Linked DNA regions of Homo sapiens: regions 2 and 3 are each linked to region 1. The links come from fine-mapping of genetic effects on gene expression. A gene starts in region 1. Each other region holds a variant in brackets. All regions are shown on one strand. Distances are between the middles of the regions. Region 1 holds the start of EGFR (epidermal growth factor receptor). Region 2 overlaps EGFR (epidermal growth factor receptor). Region 3 has its middle 120 kb from the start of SEC61G-DT.

The links. PIP is the estimated chance that this variant, and not a neighbour inherited with it, causes the effect.
Region 2: its variant is the best candidate, but not a certain one, in a credible set for the expression of EGFR in sun-exposed skin (GTEx, PIP 0.71).
Region 3: its variant is the best candidate, but not a certain one, in a credible set for the expression of EGFR in prefrontal cortex (CommonMind, PIP 0.56).

What each region holds. Positions count from the first base shown.
Region 1 is chr7:55,016,369-55,021,368 of GRCh38, forward strand. EGFR (epidermal growth factor receptor) reads left to right here and starts at 2,649. Exons shown (of 28, transcript NM_005228.5): 1 at 2,649-2,997. The coding sequence starts at 2,910. It overlaps LOC105375284 (a long non-coding RNA gene), which reads right to left and starts at 2,554. Exons shown (of 4, transcript XR_007060329.1): 1 at 193-2,554. RefSeq lists an enhancer at 3,649-4,323.
Region 2 is chr7:55,150,059-55,155,508 of GRCh38, forward strand. EGFR (epidermal growth factor receptor) reads left to right here. Exons shown (of 28, transcript NM_005228.5): 5 at 1,236-1,304; 6 at 2,488-2,606; 7 at 3,953-4,094. Among named protein-coding and RNA genes, the nearest start is that of EGFR-AS1, 36 kb to the right of the region's middle. RefSeq lists an enhancer at 2,047-2,855. The variant A/G (reference allele first, on the strand shown) is at 2,426.
Region 3 is chr7:54,878,587-54,884,036 of GRCh38, forward strand. No RefSeq gene overlaps it. Among named protein-coding and RNA genes, the nearest start is that of SEC61G-DT, 120 kb to the left of the region's middle. The variant A/G (reference allele first, on the strand shown) is at 2,977.

The DNA.
Region 1 (5,000 bases):
TCATCAGAGGAAAAAAGTTTCTCATGTACAGCTGGCAAAGGGATGGAACCATCTGTGTTATTAAAATTGACAGACGCTTATGAGATTTATTAAGGGAAATACTAGAGTCTTAGTACATACTTGCTAATATAGCATACATGAAGGCTTTATCTATAATTTTTTTGGCCAAGCAGAAATTTTGGTATTACTCACCCTAACAAATTTCCAAGACATTATGAAATAGAATTTTAGGTCCTGACATCACCATTTGTCTCAGGTTTTGAAGCGTTGCTGGACAAGAGGGGTAAAACACGGCTCTGCCTTGGATTCAAAGTTGGCCTCTCATACTAGCAAGTATACCTTGGTATCCTGGTCACTTCTCCCGGCCACAGCATCACATTGCTATAAAAGGCAGATACAAGTATTAACCAGCTCACAGGTTATCAGATAAGCTTAGTCTGACCAATGCTTAACACAGCAACTGGGCCACTATTGTCATTCCTGTGGTGGTGGCACACACACCCAGCCTCTGTCCGGGCCATGGTCTAGGACCACCCTCCACAGAGGCTGTGAGCTAGAGCCCTAACTGTGCAGGGCCCTAACTATGCCAGGCTACTTATCTCTCTTAAGAGGACTTCATTAGTGCCTGCTCGGCCATACAGTTTTTTACTTACCAAGTAACACAGTTATCAGCACACTCCAGGTACTAGCCAAGGACTACAAAATCAACGTGAATGTCAGCTTTTGTATCAAAAGCTCAAAGGAGAAACTCAAACTTTACATAGATGTCCCATGAAGATGTTCAGCAAACCCATTCTTCTCTGTTCCCTGGAATCCATCCCAGTATTGTGCTATGTGTGTGTCTAGTAATTCTTTACAAAAAGCTCTGTTTCTTGTGATGCTATCAGATCACATTGAAGAATATACAAGCCGTACTATGAAGGCTGTTGTCTCATATAGTCCTAACGTAGTGAGAACTGATGTTCTTACATGCTGTCTTTTTGGGCACTCAAAGAAATTCCTGTACAGTCTTACAAATCAGTTGTAGCTTAAATTGATTTGTGTTGTGACTTGTACACACAGGTCACATTCCCTTGACAGAAAATATAGTTTAAAACCAAATTTGCAGCCCTTGTTAAGTGAATGCACAGGACTTTATTGTATTCAGGTCTTTTATTGTAAGACTCACTCCTGTCTTCATTTTATGTTCCACTGTTGTGCTTCCCATTTGCCTTTCTCTAGTTTTGTTTTCTGTGTTTCTACGGACTGCTCTCAGCCCAGGTGTGCAGGAAGCACACACATGCCTGCAGAGCCTTCATGGCCTCTGCATTCAGGGCATGACTTCAACGCACAGTGGCTGTACTGATTTGTTAAAACAAAGGAACAGATTACTTCTCCTAATTCACAGGGAAGTTCCAGGTTGTGCGGGCAGTGAGCAGACCTGTGTCTGTCTGCGCTTGCCCTGGTGAAAAACCCCACCGTTCAGGCTGCAGGGTGCGAGACCCAGGCACAAACATTTTGCTGGATGAGGAGGAAAGATGTAAGGTTGCTCCCCTTCAGAGACAGCAAAGGGCAGGTCTGTAGCTTCACTTACTTCAGGATTGTGATTTTTGACAGAGCCGAGAGATCAGGGTTGTTGAACCAGGCCTGAAGGTCCTAGTGAATCTCGTGAAGAGAGGAGGGGTCTGGCTGTAACATGGACCTAGAGGACATTTTTACTGCAGGAGAAGGAACAGTGGGGATGGGGTGGACTTGCCAAAGGAATATAGCTCAAGTTCCTGCAGCCCAAAAAAGCTCAGTTTCTTTTGGCCAAAGCTTCCGCGAGTTTCCCTGGCATTTCTCCTGCGGGAGCTACAGGGGCAGTGGGACACTTAGCCTCTCTAAAAGCACCTCCACGGCTGTTTGTGTCAAGCCTTTATTCCAAGAGCTTCACTTTTGCGAAGTAATGTGCTTCACACATTGGCTTCAAAGTACCCATGGCTGGTTGCAATAAACATTAAGGAGGCCTGTCTCTGCACCCGGAGTTGGGTGCCCTCATTTCAGATGATTTCGAGGGTGCTTGACAAGATCTGAAGGACCCTCGGACTTTAGAGCACCACCTCGGACGCCTGGCACCCCTGCCGCGCGGGCACGGCGACCTCCTCAGCTGCCAGGCCAGCCTCTGATCCCCGAGAGGGTCCCGTAGTGCTGCAGGGGAGGTGGGGACCCGAATAAAGGAGCAGTTTCCCCGTCGGTGCCATTATCCGACGCTGGCTCTAAGGCTCGGCCAGTCTGTCTAAAGCTGGTACAAGTTTGCTTTGTAAAACAAAAGAAGGGAAAGGGGGAAGGGGACCCTGGCACAGATTTGGCTCGACCTGGACATAGGCTGGGCCTGCAAGTCCGCGGGGACCGGGTCCAGAGGGGCAGTGCTGGGAACGCCCCTCTCGGAAATTAACTCCTCAGGGCACCCGCTCCCCTCCCATGCGCCGCCCCACTCCCGCCGGAGACTAGGTCCCGCGGGGGCCACCGCTGTCCACCGCCTCCGGCGGCCGCTGGCCTTGGGTCCCCGCTGCTGGTTCTCCTCCCTCCTCCTCGCATTCTCCTCCTCCTCTGCTCCTCCCGATCCCTCCTCCGCCGCCTGGTCCCTCCTCCTCCCGCCCTGCCTCCCCGCGCCTCGGCCCGCGCGAGCTAGACGTCCGGGCAGCCCCCGGCGCAGCGCGGCCGCAGCAGCCTCCGCCCCCCGCACGGTGTGAGCGCCCGACGCGGCCGAGGCGGCCGGAGTCCCGAGCTAGCCCCGGCGGCCGCCGCCGCCCAGACCGGACGACAGGCCACCTCGTCGGCGTCCGCCCGAGTCCCCGCCTCGCCGCCAACGCCACAACCACCGCGCACGGCCCCCTGACTCCGTCCAGTATTGATCGGGAGAGCCGGAGCGAGCTCTTCGGGGAGCAGCGATGCGACCCTCCGGGACGGCCGGGGCAGCGCTCCTGGCGCTGCTGGCTGCGCTCTGCCCGGCGAGTCGGGCTCTGGAGGAAAAGAAAGGTAAGGGCGTGTCTCGCCGGCTCCCGCGCCGCCCCCGGATCGCGCCCCGGACCCCGCAGCCCGCCCAACCGCGCACCGGCGCACCGGCTCGGCGCCCGCGCCCCCGCCCGTCCTTTCCTGTTTCCTTGAGATCAGCTGCGCCGCCGACCGGGACCGCGGGAGGAACGGGACGTTTCGTTCTTCGGCCGGGAGAGTCTGGGGCGGGCGGAGGAGGAGACGCGTGGGACACCGGGCTGCAGGCCAGGCGGGGAACGGCCGCCGGGACCTCCGGCGCCCCGAACCGCTCCCAACTTTCTTCCCTCACTTTCCCCGCCCAGCTGCGCAGGATCGGCGTCAGTGGGCGAAAGCCGGGTGCTGGTGGGCGCCTGGGGCCGGGGTCCCGCACGTGCGCCCCGCGCTGTCTTCCCAGGGCGCGACGGGGTCCTGGCGCGCACCCGAGGGGCGGGCGCTGCCCACCCGCCGAGACTGCACTGTTTAGGGAAGCTGAGGAAGGAACCCAAAAATACAGCCTCCCCTCGGACCCCGCGGGACAGGCGGCTTTCTGAGAGGACCTCCCCGCCTCCGCCCTCCGCGCAGGTCTCAAACTGAAGCCGGCGCCCGCCAGCCTGGCCCCGGCCCCTCTCCAGGTCCCCGCGATCCTCGTTCCCCAGTGTGGAGTCGCAGCCTCGACCTGGGAGCTGGGAGAACTCGTCTACCACCACCTGCGGCTCCCGGGGAGGGGTGGTGCTGGCGGCGGTTAGTTTCCTCGTTGGCAAAAGGCAGGTGGGGTCCGACCCGCCCCTTGGGCGCAGACCCCGGCCGCTCGCCTCGCCCGGTGCGCCCTCGTCTTGCCTATCCAAGAGTGCCCCCCACCTCCCGGGGACCCCAGCTCCCTCCTGGGCGCCCGCGCCGAAAGCCCCAGGCTCTCCTTCGATGGCCGCCTCGCGGAGACGTCCGGGTCTGCTCCACCTGCAGCCCTTCGGTCGCGCCTGGGCTTCGCGGTGGAGCGGGACGCGGCTGTCCGGCCACTGCAGGGGGGGATCGCGGGACTCTTGAGCGGAAGCCCCGGAAGCAGAGCTCATCCTGGCCAACACCATGGTGTTTCAAAATGGGGCTCACAGCAAACTTCTCCTCAAAACCCGGAGACTTTCTTTCTTGGATGTCTCTTTTTGCTGTTTGAAGAATTTGAGCCAACCAAAATATTAAACCTGTCTTACACACACACACACACACACACACACACACACACCGGATTGCTGTCCCTGGTTCAAGTGTGCCAAGTGTGCAGACAGAACATGAGCGAGTCTGGCTTCGTGACTACCGACCATAAACCCACTTGACAGGGGAAACATGCCTTGGAAGGTTTAATTGCACAATTCCAACCTTGAGCTGCGCGGGTTCCAAGAGCCAGGCCCGTACTTGCTGTTGATGTCATTGGCTTGGGGAGTTGGGGTTTGGTGCCCAGCGCGGTCGTTGGGGGAGGGGCAAGGCATAGAACAGTGGTTCCCAGACCTTGCTGCACATTGGAATTACCTGGGATTAAAAAAAAAAAAATCAAAACAAAAACCAGTGTCTGGCTCCCGCCCCCAGACATTCTGATTTAATTGGCATGGGGCAAGACCTGGACTTGGGATTTTTTTTAATGCTCTTCATGTGATCTGTTGGGCAGCCAGATTTGGGGATCACTAGACGGAAGAAGGATTGTTAAAGTCTCCGGAGATGTTACTTGCCAATGCTAAGAGCTCTTTGAGGACATCTGGAATTGTTACAATATTGCCAAATATAGGAAAGAGGGAAAAGGTAGAGTGTGATTCCAATAATAAAGGATTCCGCTTTTCATTGAAGGAACTGGTGGAAAGGTTTCTTCTCTGCTGAGCCTGCAGGCCCGTCCTGCCTGCCTGGGGTGCCCGGGAGACGCGGGCCTGCTCCGGAGACTGCTGACTGCCGGTCCTGTTAGTCAGGTGTCAGCCCTGTCTCTGCCGAAGAGACTCTTCTCTTTATTTTAAATTAAACCCTCAGAGCAC
Region 2 (5,450 bases), 130 kb after region 1:
ATGGTCAATACTAGAATCATAAACAGATCTTGTTTGTTTATTGGCAAATGTTTCCCGTTAGAAAAAGATGCATTTTTCTTTTAAATATTTTTATTTTATACAATGATTACAAGCTTATAATAGAAATTTGAAAATTATATGTGAGTACAGGGTAAAAAGTTGAAAGAATGGGATTGCACGCTACAGATCTAGCTGCTTTTAGCACGCCTGCGTAGGACCTTGCTTTCTCTAGACCTCTGTTGCAGTCTCTCTGCCTACCTCCTCACAACGTCCATCCCCCGCGGTCACTGTCGTGATGCCAGCCTCCCCGGCCTTCATGTCTCTAAGGAGCACCAGCGCGGCAATTAGCGCCCTTTGCCTTGGTGGTATTCTGGCTTCACAGTCACATGGGAGATCAATCGTCAGCTTTTCTGTTTGAAATCTAAATTCTTCCTGACTGCAGGGGACCTCGGGACCCATGAACACCTCTAGTTTACTATGTCTTCACAGTAAAAGATATCTGCATGACTGGACTCTTTAACAAATTTGGTGGTTAACCTACTCTTTCTATATAGATATAGCACTTCGACCTTCAGACTTCTCAATACTGATAAAAAGAAAACACGACAGATGACAGGAAAACCTTTGCAGCTATAATTTGTAATCGGCCAATTATAAAAACTGCAAAAATTGACCAGATAGCTAAGGTTTTACACAGTCATGAAAGTGATCTGCACTGTTAACATTTCACCCTCTGTGCACCATTCTGTGCTTCTCTCTGGTTTGGAGTCTAGAAGGTTTTATTTACAGGCTATGACTTAACAATCCCAGAACGGCTGACACATGCAGTCACTCAAGACTGGACACAGCAAGGAAGTAGTGGGTCCATGCCAAAGGCTCAGCCAGACGAGACACTCTAGCTGTGGCAGGAGATGCCAGGGAATGCTCCAAGCCTAAGCAGATTGTAAACAAGGAACCTCAAATTCATGAAAAATTCTTGCTTATGTGGCCCATGTCAGTAATTACTCTCTGCCTCAGTTTCCGCAGCTGACATGTAAATAAAAGCAGTTCATGGTTCATCTTCTTTTCTTATCGGGGTCTCAAGTGATTCTACAAACCAGCCAGCCAAACAATCAGAGAATAAGTTGAAAAGATTGTCTTCATTTATTGAATGTGCTTAACTCAGGCCCGGGAAAGGGCGTCATCAGTTTCTCATCATTTCACTGAGATATGCATCTATTACTTTTACATTTCAGGCCAAAAGTGTGATCCAAGCTGTCCCAATGGGAGCTGCTGGGGTGCAGGAGAGGAGAACTGCCAGAAACGTAAGTCAGTGAACAGCCTCAGACCCATGTGTGACCGCCCCTCTCTTCCTTCACTTGCTTAGGTGATTGGATTTGTTTTCCCTCTGAAGACTCCAAAGAGTTACTTTATTACAGGGTCAGATGTGAACCAGTAGGTGAAGGACAGTCTTGCAAATCTCACCGCATGCAGTTAATCCAGGGTGGGCTATTTTGGGAGCTTCAGCCTATCACAAATAAGTGAACATCAGCAGGGGCTGGGCGCGGTGGCTCACCCCTATAATCCCAGCACTTTGGGAGGCGGAGGCGGTCGGATCACGAGGTCAGGAGATCGAGCCATTCTGGTTAACACAGTGAAACCTCGTCTCTACTAAAAATACAAAAAATTAGCCGGGCGTGGTGGCGGGCGCCTGTAGTCCCAGCTACTCGGGAGGCTGAGGCAGGAGAATGGCATGAACCTGGGAGGCGGAGCTTGCAGTGAGCCGAGATTGTGCCACTGCATTCCAGCCTGGGCGACAGAGCGAGACTCCGTCTCAAAACAACAACAACAACAACAACAACAATAAGTGAACATCAGCAAGTACCCCAGCCCTGTCCTCTGAACACAGCACACTTTCCCAGGAATGGAAGACTTGCTCCTGTTGACAGCAGTCACCAGACTTCTTGTTTCCTCTCCCTCCCTGGCTTTCTTTGGTACCCACCTACACAGAAGCCTGAGCACGGGTTCTCATGGGGACTTTTCCATGTGGACCCTGCTTTACGATGGAGAGGGCCATTCTCCTAGGTATGGTTGTCTGGCTCAGCCTCTCAGTGGCCAAGGAACCTGGGGACATGAGCTCAAAAACGGACACTATGTCCTTAAGCTGAATTGTGGGGGGGCTGTTAGGCCCTTCTAAACACTACTTCCCAGCAGGTATTTTTGTTCTTTGTATGTGCTTTCTGCATTGCCCAAGATGCATCTAATTATTTAGCAGGTCTCAAAGTCTAGACTTGATCTCATGAGTTCTCTTAAGTGATTAAAAATAAATCAGGAGAAAAAAGAGGCAATCAGAAAAGGGCATGGTTTGACTTAGTTTGAATGTGGTTTCGTTGGAAGCAAATGTGTCTTCACTTTTTCATGAAAAAGTCTGCAAGTGCTCTGCGAC[A/G]TCCCTGGGAAATGATCCTACCCTCACTCTTCAGCTCACAGGGAACCTTTGCTCTTTTTCAGTGACCAAAATCATCTGTGCCCAGCAGTGCTCCGGGCGCTGCCGTGGCAAGTCCCCCAGTGACTGCTGCCACAACCAGTGTGCTGCAGGCTGCACAGGCCCCCGGGAGAGCGACTGCCTGGTAAGATGCCCCTCCAGCAGCCTCCCTGGAGCAGGCTGGGGCTGCACCCGCCCCACCCACACCAGGACAGAAGACTTCCTGTGGGGGAGCTGTCAATTAGCATTTGTCATAACAGACAGGATATTGCCCTCTGCCTGGTGACAAAGTATCTTTAGTATCCTGCCTCCACCACTCACTGAGACCTTGGGAAAATGATGGGACTACCATGCCTCCATTTCCTTACCTGACAATGATGCATAACAAAGTCTCTCCCAGTTGAATGCTTAAATGATGAGATGCCTGTGATGTCCGTCATTAGGACCTGGGCACAGAACAAGCACTAAATACTACATGCAAGTATTTGTCATGAATGTGCCTTGTTGCCAGCAGCACACTCTCTTTATTGTTTGACTTCGGCTATACCTCTAGAGACTTGACACTGTGAGGTCCCTAAGAGACCCATGGAGAGCCACACAGGTCTTGCTGGCTGGGGCTGGGTTAGGGCCTCCTGACACGGATCCCTCGGCTCCTCCACCACTGCTCAGGCACCTCCTGAGCTGCACCCTGCCCTCAAGGGGTCCTGAAGTACTCACTGTCGCCCCATTGCTCCAGAAAGTGCCAGCAGAAGCCTTGCTGCCCCAGCGGGCTCTGAGCAGCACTGGAGGGTACAGGTCAGAAGCGTCTTGGAAGTCCTGGAGACGCCAAGGCTGGTGGATGTGACTCCTGGAGTGGGAGCTGGTGTGACGAAGCCCTTCCTAAGACTAAATCCAGAGCACTCTGTGGTTTCAGAGAAGATTCCTAAATTCCAGAGTTTGGACCCAGACCCAGGAATTGTGACTTGGTTGGCCTGAGCTGTTTCTAATGTGAGCCCCAGGGAGAAGACTGTGCGTGGGGTTGGTCCTAGGAAAAGCCCTCGCTGTATTGGGTCTGGCTCCTTTACACGGCATTGTTCTAGCAAGGCTTTCTGCCATTCAGCAATACATTATAAAATATACCCTCAATTGTACTTTATAAGGGAAGCCCAATGTCCTTTATAAGGGAAATTAAACATAATTTCATTCCATAGTCACCGCTATAATGTGTGAACTCCATCATCTATACGTTAGTAAACAGACGTATTTTTATCATAATCCATAAATTATGATAGGTGGGACAGTGCACCTAAGAAAAAAATGGACTTTTTAGAGAAGGGTCTTTCTGACTCTGCAGAGGGCGCCAGCTGGGTTTTCCCACACTAGTGGAACACTAGGCTGCAAAGACAGTAACTTGGGCTTTCTGACGGGAGTCAACACCGTGCTGCGCTTCCTCCGTGTGTGGCGCTGAGTGTACTTACCTCACTTGCCCAGCGTGTCCTCTCTCCTCCATAGGTCTGCCGCAAATTCCGAGACGAAGCCACGTGCAAGGACACCTGCCCCCCACTCATGCTCTACAACCCCACCACGTACCAGATGGATGTGAACCCCGAGGGCAAATACAGCTTTGGTGCCACCTGCGTGAAGAAGTGTCCCCGTGAGTCCTCCTCTGTGGGCCCTCTAACTGGTCAGGCATCCTTGTCCCGCTCTGTCTCCTGCTGAGCCCTGGAGTATCCCATCTTGGAGAGTCTTTGGGTGGATGTGTTTGCCTTGCTTGGAGGAGGCGACCCTGTGCCCGTCCAGGCACACAGGCGAGGGGAGGGGCTGGCTTGCTACCGAGGAGCGGGCAGGTGGTGGCCATCTCCACCCATGGGGGCTGCTCAGTGCACAGGGCAGATCTGGGTGGCCAGGCCACCTCACAGGAGAAACACCTGCTGCTCAGCCCTCACCACTCATCCAGCAGCCACAGCCGTGGGTATTCAGTTGTCTGCTGGGCACAAAGCCGTGGGCATGCCACTGTTTAGTGCTTGTGCCAAGCAGGTATTTAATACACCGAAATCAGAGAGTCTATCAGAAGACCTGCCTTCTTGAGTGGTTAAAATTCTAGTGAAAGTTATGCCTCTTAGGAGTATTGCAGAGGTTTTGTTTTTGTTTTTATTTTGTTTTGTTTTAATGGTTTGGGTTTGAGTTTTGCTTGTTTGTACTTACATTTGTACTGGTGGCTCCAGGGTTTAGGGAAATTGTGACATAAAATAATTCCTGACAGAGAAAGCAAAACTTTGTCTAATGAAAGAGTTTTAGAAGCCACTCTTGATCTCTAGAAGGGGAGATTAACTGAGAAAAAAAATTGAAAGAACAATTATGAGGGGGAGATTTTACCCTGCCAGATTTGTGTACATGAAAAATTTTACATTCCGTATGGAAAAAAAAAACACAAAATAATAAGCCATTATAAGGTAAATGACAAACAAAGCTAAAGAAAAATGTGCCACAGTGATGACACAGATATATCTTTGAGATAGGGCTTAACAGAGCTTTAAAATCCATAGGAAAACACTTCGAGCCTGAGATACCAAGAGCAGATGGTTCACAGAAGAATCATCAATGTCCTATAAATATTTTTGAGGATCTTCTTGGGGAACTTAAAACAGGAACAGGCCAGGCACAGTGGCTCATTGGCTCATGCCTTTAATCCCAGCACTTTGGGAGACTGAAGGGGCTGGATTGTCTGAGGTCAGGAGTTTGGGACCAGCCTGGCCAACAGGGTGAAACCTCGTCTCTACTAAAAATACAAAAATTAGCCGGGCGTGGTGGCGCACGCCTGTAATCACAGCCGCTCAGGAGGCTGAGGCAGGAGAATTGCTTTAACCCAGGAGGCGGAGGTTGCAGTGAGCTGAGATCACACCACTGCACTCCAGCCTGGGTGACAGAGCAAGACTCCATCTCAGACAAACAAAAAAGGAAGACATAGAGCTCCTAAAAATAACGCAGAAGTCTGCTATTAATACAAATG
Region 3 (5,450 bases), 140 kb before region 1:
CAAATTTCACTGTTCTTAGCAAAATTTGGTAGATTTTCTTAAATAAATGTTTCTTTTTATGCTGTATGCCCATAGAACAAGTTCCAAAGATTTAAAATGTTTGGGTTTCTTTTCTCAGTTTCACCAATTAGGTTGTTTCACTAGGGAGAGGGTACATGTAGGTTATTATGCCAAAATTCTGGAAATTGTCTACCAGTATCATATAATTTTAAACTAAGAATTTCAAAATTAAAGAAGCATATTAATTGCTCTCAATTATAAAACACATATGCAATAATAATTTTGGAGGATTGTATTAAAAATCACAACACTTAGTGCTCTATGACAATGTTCATTCTGCTCATGAATCTGCAATTTGGCAGAACTTCTGCCAAAGAGACTGTTCACTCTTGCTTTATTCCATGTCGACTAGGGTTACTCAAAAGTTAGAACTGAAATAACTTAAGGGCTCACTCATTCATATTTTTGGTGGGTTATACTTGGAAAATTCAAACCGCTGCAGGTTATAGTAGCTAGGGCTTCTTGGATATCGCTATCTTTATGTGGCCTCCCCATGTGGTCTCTCTAGCATGCTTCAGGGTAGCTGATCTTTTATATGTCACCTAAGGGCTTCCAAGGCATGTGTCCTCAGAGACAGGAAAAAGAGGAAACTCTGACTTTTTATGACCTAGCCTTGGAAGTCATAAAGTGTCATTTCTGCTCAAGTCCCAGGCCCACTAGATTCACCCATTTGCCCATTTATCTTGGCATTTCTATTTATAGAGATGAGTAAGCATGATACTCAGAAAAATAAAGAAATTTACCCAAATTATAGACCTAATAAATGAGAGAACAATGATTGAATAACTCTGTCTGGTAATATTCAATAAATGCTATTAAGATACTTGGTCACAACTTTTATATAAAAACAAATTTACACCCTGCGAGCGAGAAACAAAAATTCCTTCTAGGAGATACCAGGAGATAGACAAATCATAGTACGGACAACTCACACATTTCAACAATGTTATGTGATGTGTACACCCCGCTAGTAGAAATGCAATGTTTCAAGGGAGGCTAAGAGATGGAGCAATTTACTCTTCCTTGGGGGTGAGAGGGACTGCCCGGCTGAGAGGTAACATTTGAGCAGAACCTTAGAGGATCTTCAGCGATAGATAGTCTGTAGTTGAGGAAGAGAGGTCAGAGCCCAGGCCCAGAGAGCACAGGGCCACGGAACTGACATGGGGGGTGTGGAGATTCAGGGAAGGCTGGGCACTAAAGCATAACTGTGGGATATGGTGAAGCCCAGGTGTTGGGGGAGGTGGGGTCAGGAGATGAGGCTGGAAATAGGTTAGGCCTTGCTTGTGAATGACTTTGAATGACATACTTAGAAGTTGCTCTTTAACTTATGACTAATCAAGAGCCACAGCAGTTTATAAGTAGAGAAGTGATACAGTAAATTCCACATTTAGAAAGACCACTTCAGTGATTACATAGAGAAAAATGAAGGGATTTAATACTGGGGAATAAGACACAAGACAGGAGAGCAATGTAATAGACGGTGCTCTGGTGTTGAGAATGACATCAGAGGCATATCTTTTGTGTTTTTATTCCAATACTGTTGTAAACTTCTGAAGCTTGAAGGTCTGTGCAGCAAAAAAATCTCAGTGTAGGTAGAGGTGTAGCAGGACAAGCAGCAGACAAAACCCCTCAGACACCGAGTTAAAGAAGGAAGGGCTTTATTCGGCCAGGAGCTTCGGCAAGACTCACGTCTCCAAAAACCGAGCTCCCCAAGTGAGCAATTCCTGTCTCCTTTAAGGGCTTATAACTCTAAGGGGGTCTGTGTGAGACGGTCGTGATCAACTGAGCAAGCAGGGGGTATGTGACTGGGGGCTGCATGCACCGGCAATCACAACGGAACAGAACAGGACAGGGATTTTCACAGTGCTTTTCCATAAAATGTCTGGAATCTATAGATAACATAACCAGTTAGGTCAGGGGTCAATCTTTAACCAGGCCCAGGGCACGGCGCCAGGCTGTCTGCCTGTGGATTTCATTTCTGCCTTTTAGTTTTTACTTCTTCTTTCTTTGGAGGCAGAAATTGGGCATAAGCCAATATGAGGGGTGGTCTCCTCCCTTAGAGGTATCAACTGTTATTTAATTACATTTTAGCAAAATTTTAAGGGTGGTTTTTCTAGCAGTAGGAAAGAGGAAAAACACCAAAATTTGACTAAGTTATTTGGCTTTTATTCAATTCGTTTTGCTCTTTTTTTTCCTGTGACATGAGTTTGTTCCTGAAGGGCAAGGTCAAAGGAGTTTCTGACTAATGTATCCCTAAACTTCGTGCTGTTTTATTACTCTTCCATTGAGGCCAGCACACCTTAATATGACATTTTAAAATTCACAACGTTTTGTTAGCAAAATAGTTACTTTTTTTGCACTTTTATTTTTTAAAACAATTTTTTATTAAAACAATTATCTTATCAGAACCAATGACGATACCCATCAGCCAGTGTTAGTAATGCCAAACAGGCCTCTCAGCTTGCACTATGTTAATTATATTCAAAATAAGAATCCACAGAAAGAACTCAAATAAGTACAAATATTTCTTAATATATTTTTGGGATGGAATTCCTAATAGAGTCTATTCCTTGCCTGAAACCTGCAAATATACATTACTTTTAATGTTGTTAAGTATGAGTCACAAGTAGAGGTAAGAGGCAGTGAACACAATGTTTCTTACTGCAAATCTTTTTTTCCCCTCTAAAAATTGGAGTTGTCTTATACTATAGTCACTGAGGAGAGTTACAATAAGAACCATCAAAATTGTTAGTTGCAACTTGAGATAAATAAAATACACATAAATCCTCCCAAGTGGAAAAATATTCACTGTGTGTGTCTTTCATTTTCATTCATTAAGACAAAGTTCTGAAAGCCAAGTACTACATTTGTTGTTTAGTTCCCTTTTGCACTCAGAAGATTCAAAGGGAACTTGAC[A/G]TTAGCATTTCTAATCACCCTCTTTCAGTGAGAGCTGACACACAATCTATTTTGAATAGGCCTGAATGTCAATCACTGGTTTAGAGTCCACAAAGTGGGGAGGAGTGTGTTGAGTGTGAACACAGGGAGCTGCATCTCCTGCATTTGAGCTTTAGATTCCTGAGGGCACCCAAGTGAAGATGTCCATCATACAGCTGAATAGATGGTTCCAAATGTCGGAAGAAGACGCTGGATTGGAAATACAAATATGACTGGAAAATAAGTTGAAAAAACTTTCTTTAAATCTTTTCAAATGTACCCCAGTGTATCCAGACTCTGCTACTCCAGGCCACATGGCCAAGAAGTGAGTCTGTTGTATGAGAGCCAAAACGAAGGGTGGTGAGTTGGATGCATGGTTGGACAGTAACACTTCTTCTCAGTATAAGAGACTAGATGAAAGCCTAAGGAGAAAGATTGTTTAAAAAACAGGGCCAGAGACTATGAGGATTATAGGGAAGAGGAAATGGAGACACCTCATTCTTCAATGTTGGAAGCTGATCAAGAACATTTCTTGAAGTGCATGGAAGAGAACTCCGTGCTGAGTTATTATTCTACCCATTTTGGGAGCACCATCAACACAAATCACTTATCAGCCATTGAGTATTTCATTTTGAGTTACACTGGTCAGTGTTTGGGAACTGGCACAACCTCCTCTCCAGGGACTATTCTGCTGCAGAAAAACACAGGCCAAGACTCTTTGCCCCAAATCGAAGCTGAGGCTCCTGGACTACTTGGGAGGTAATAGTGTGAAGCCCACACCCTAGGCAGAGGGGGAATGAAGAGAGCTGTTTGGTCATTGTCCAACTTATGCAATTTAGGCCTATTATATCTTGGTACTTGTCTAGGATACTGTTAAACTCAGAATCTAGGTTTGGGATTGTATTGCAAACATAGTAGCAACACTAGATGAAGCCAAGTATATCTCTTTCAAGAATGACAAAAGGTCTGAAATTTTACTCTCCTTGCAGACAAACAGGTTAGCCTGCCACATTTTCACGGATGCTGGCAGGAGATACAAGACTCCCAGGTCATAGACAACTTTTTTTGCTCACAGCACAGCAGGCAGCATGAGCTCTGTGTTTGTTTCAATCCCCTCACCCCGCAATTTCCATAGGGGAATGAAGAGGCAAGCAAGTGATGTTGTGCATACATCACAGCCAAAGAACCCCAAGCTCAGGAAACCCCCATCTTTTATAAGGGACCTGTAAGTAAACCTACTTGCCTTTTCCCCAAAGGAGACATCATCTTTATCACACTGCACAGAAAACAAGCCTGCCCCTTGCTCCAGAGAGATACTATTTCCACACAGCCTGGCTGTTTGCTAGACAAACATCCTTGGAAAGATGGTTTGGGCATTAGTTGGCTTAGAAGAATGATTCTTAAGGGATGGCAGGAATAGCTATAATCCATGCTGGGAGAAGGTGGTATATTTCATTGATCAGTAATCATTAGTTAATAGCTAACTAATTGTAACCAAATTACAATCCATGAGACCACGCATCAACCAAACAATATCTGTTATGCAATTCTATGTGAAATACAACAAATTATTTCCCATAGAAACAAAAACATCACCCTTGACTAGACAGGACTGAGGGAATTATTATAATTGTTCAATTTATACTTGGTGTACAGGCTTAAACACAGAGGCAGTAGTTAACACCACAGGCTAGGATGAGTTGGGATTACCCACGGAATATAATAAGTAAAGATGTGATGAAGGACGGCCAAGATGGGAAACCAACTGAATAAACTTAAGGCACTTGGCCAAACCCTGGGTCAGCGTCTTAACATTGCTGCCAGCATTACACTTGCACATTTAATGAAGATTTCTTAGTAACAAGATCTGACTGAGCTTGAAGCTGCTTCTAACCTTGAATGTTTAATTTCATAAACCTGTAAATGACTTGTTTTCCGTCCTAGGAATACCTTGAATGAAAAATAGTACACACTGAGAAAGTATATTATGTTAGTGCACAGCAGGAAGGATTATCACAAAGGCACTTATCGTGAAATTAGAACCCAGACCAAGAGTTAGAACAATCCCAAACCCCATATGCTCCTCTTAATCTCCTTACTATTGGTACCCTGTGTTCATTTCCAAAGGCAACCACTGTCCTCACTTCCAACATCATAGATTATGTTTATCTTCATTTGAACTTTGTTACACAATGGCATCATGTGGTATGCATTTCTTGTGTCTGGCTTCTTTCTCTCAGTATCATGTTTGCAAGATTTATGGTGTTGTATTGTGTGCAGCCATAATTAGTTCATCCTAATTACTGAATAGTATTCCATTGTATGAATATATCACAGCTTATTCATTCATTATAATCTTGATGGAATTTTGATTTGTTTTTAGTATTTGTCTATTAAAGATAACGTTCCTATAAAACATTCTTGTACACATCTTTTGACAACTGTATACATTTCTG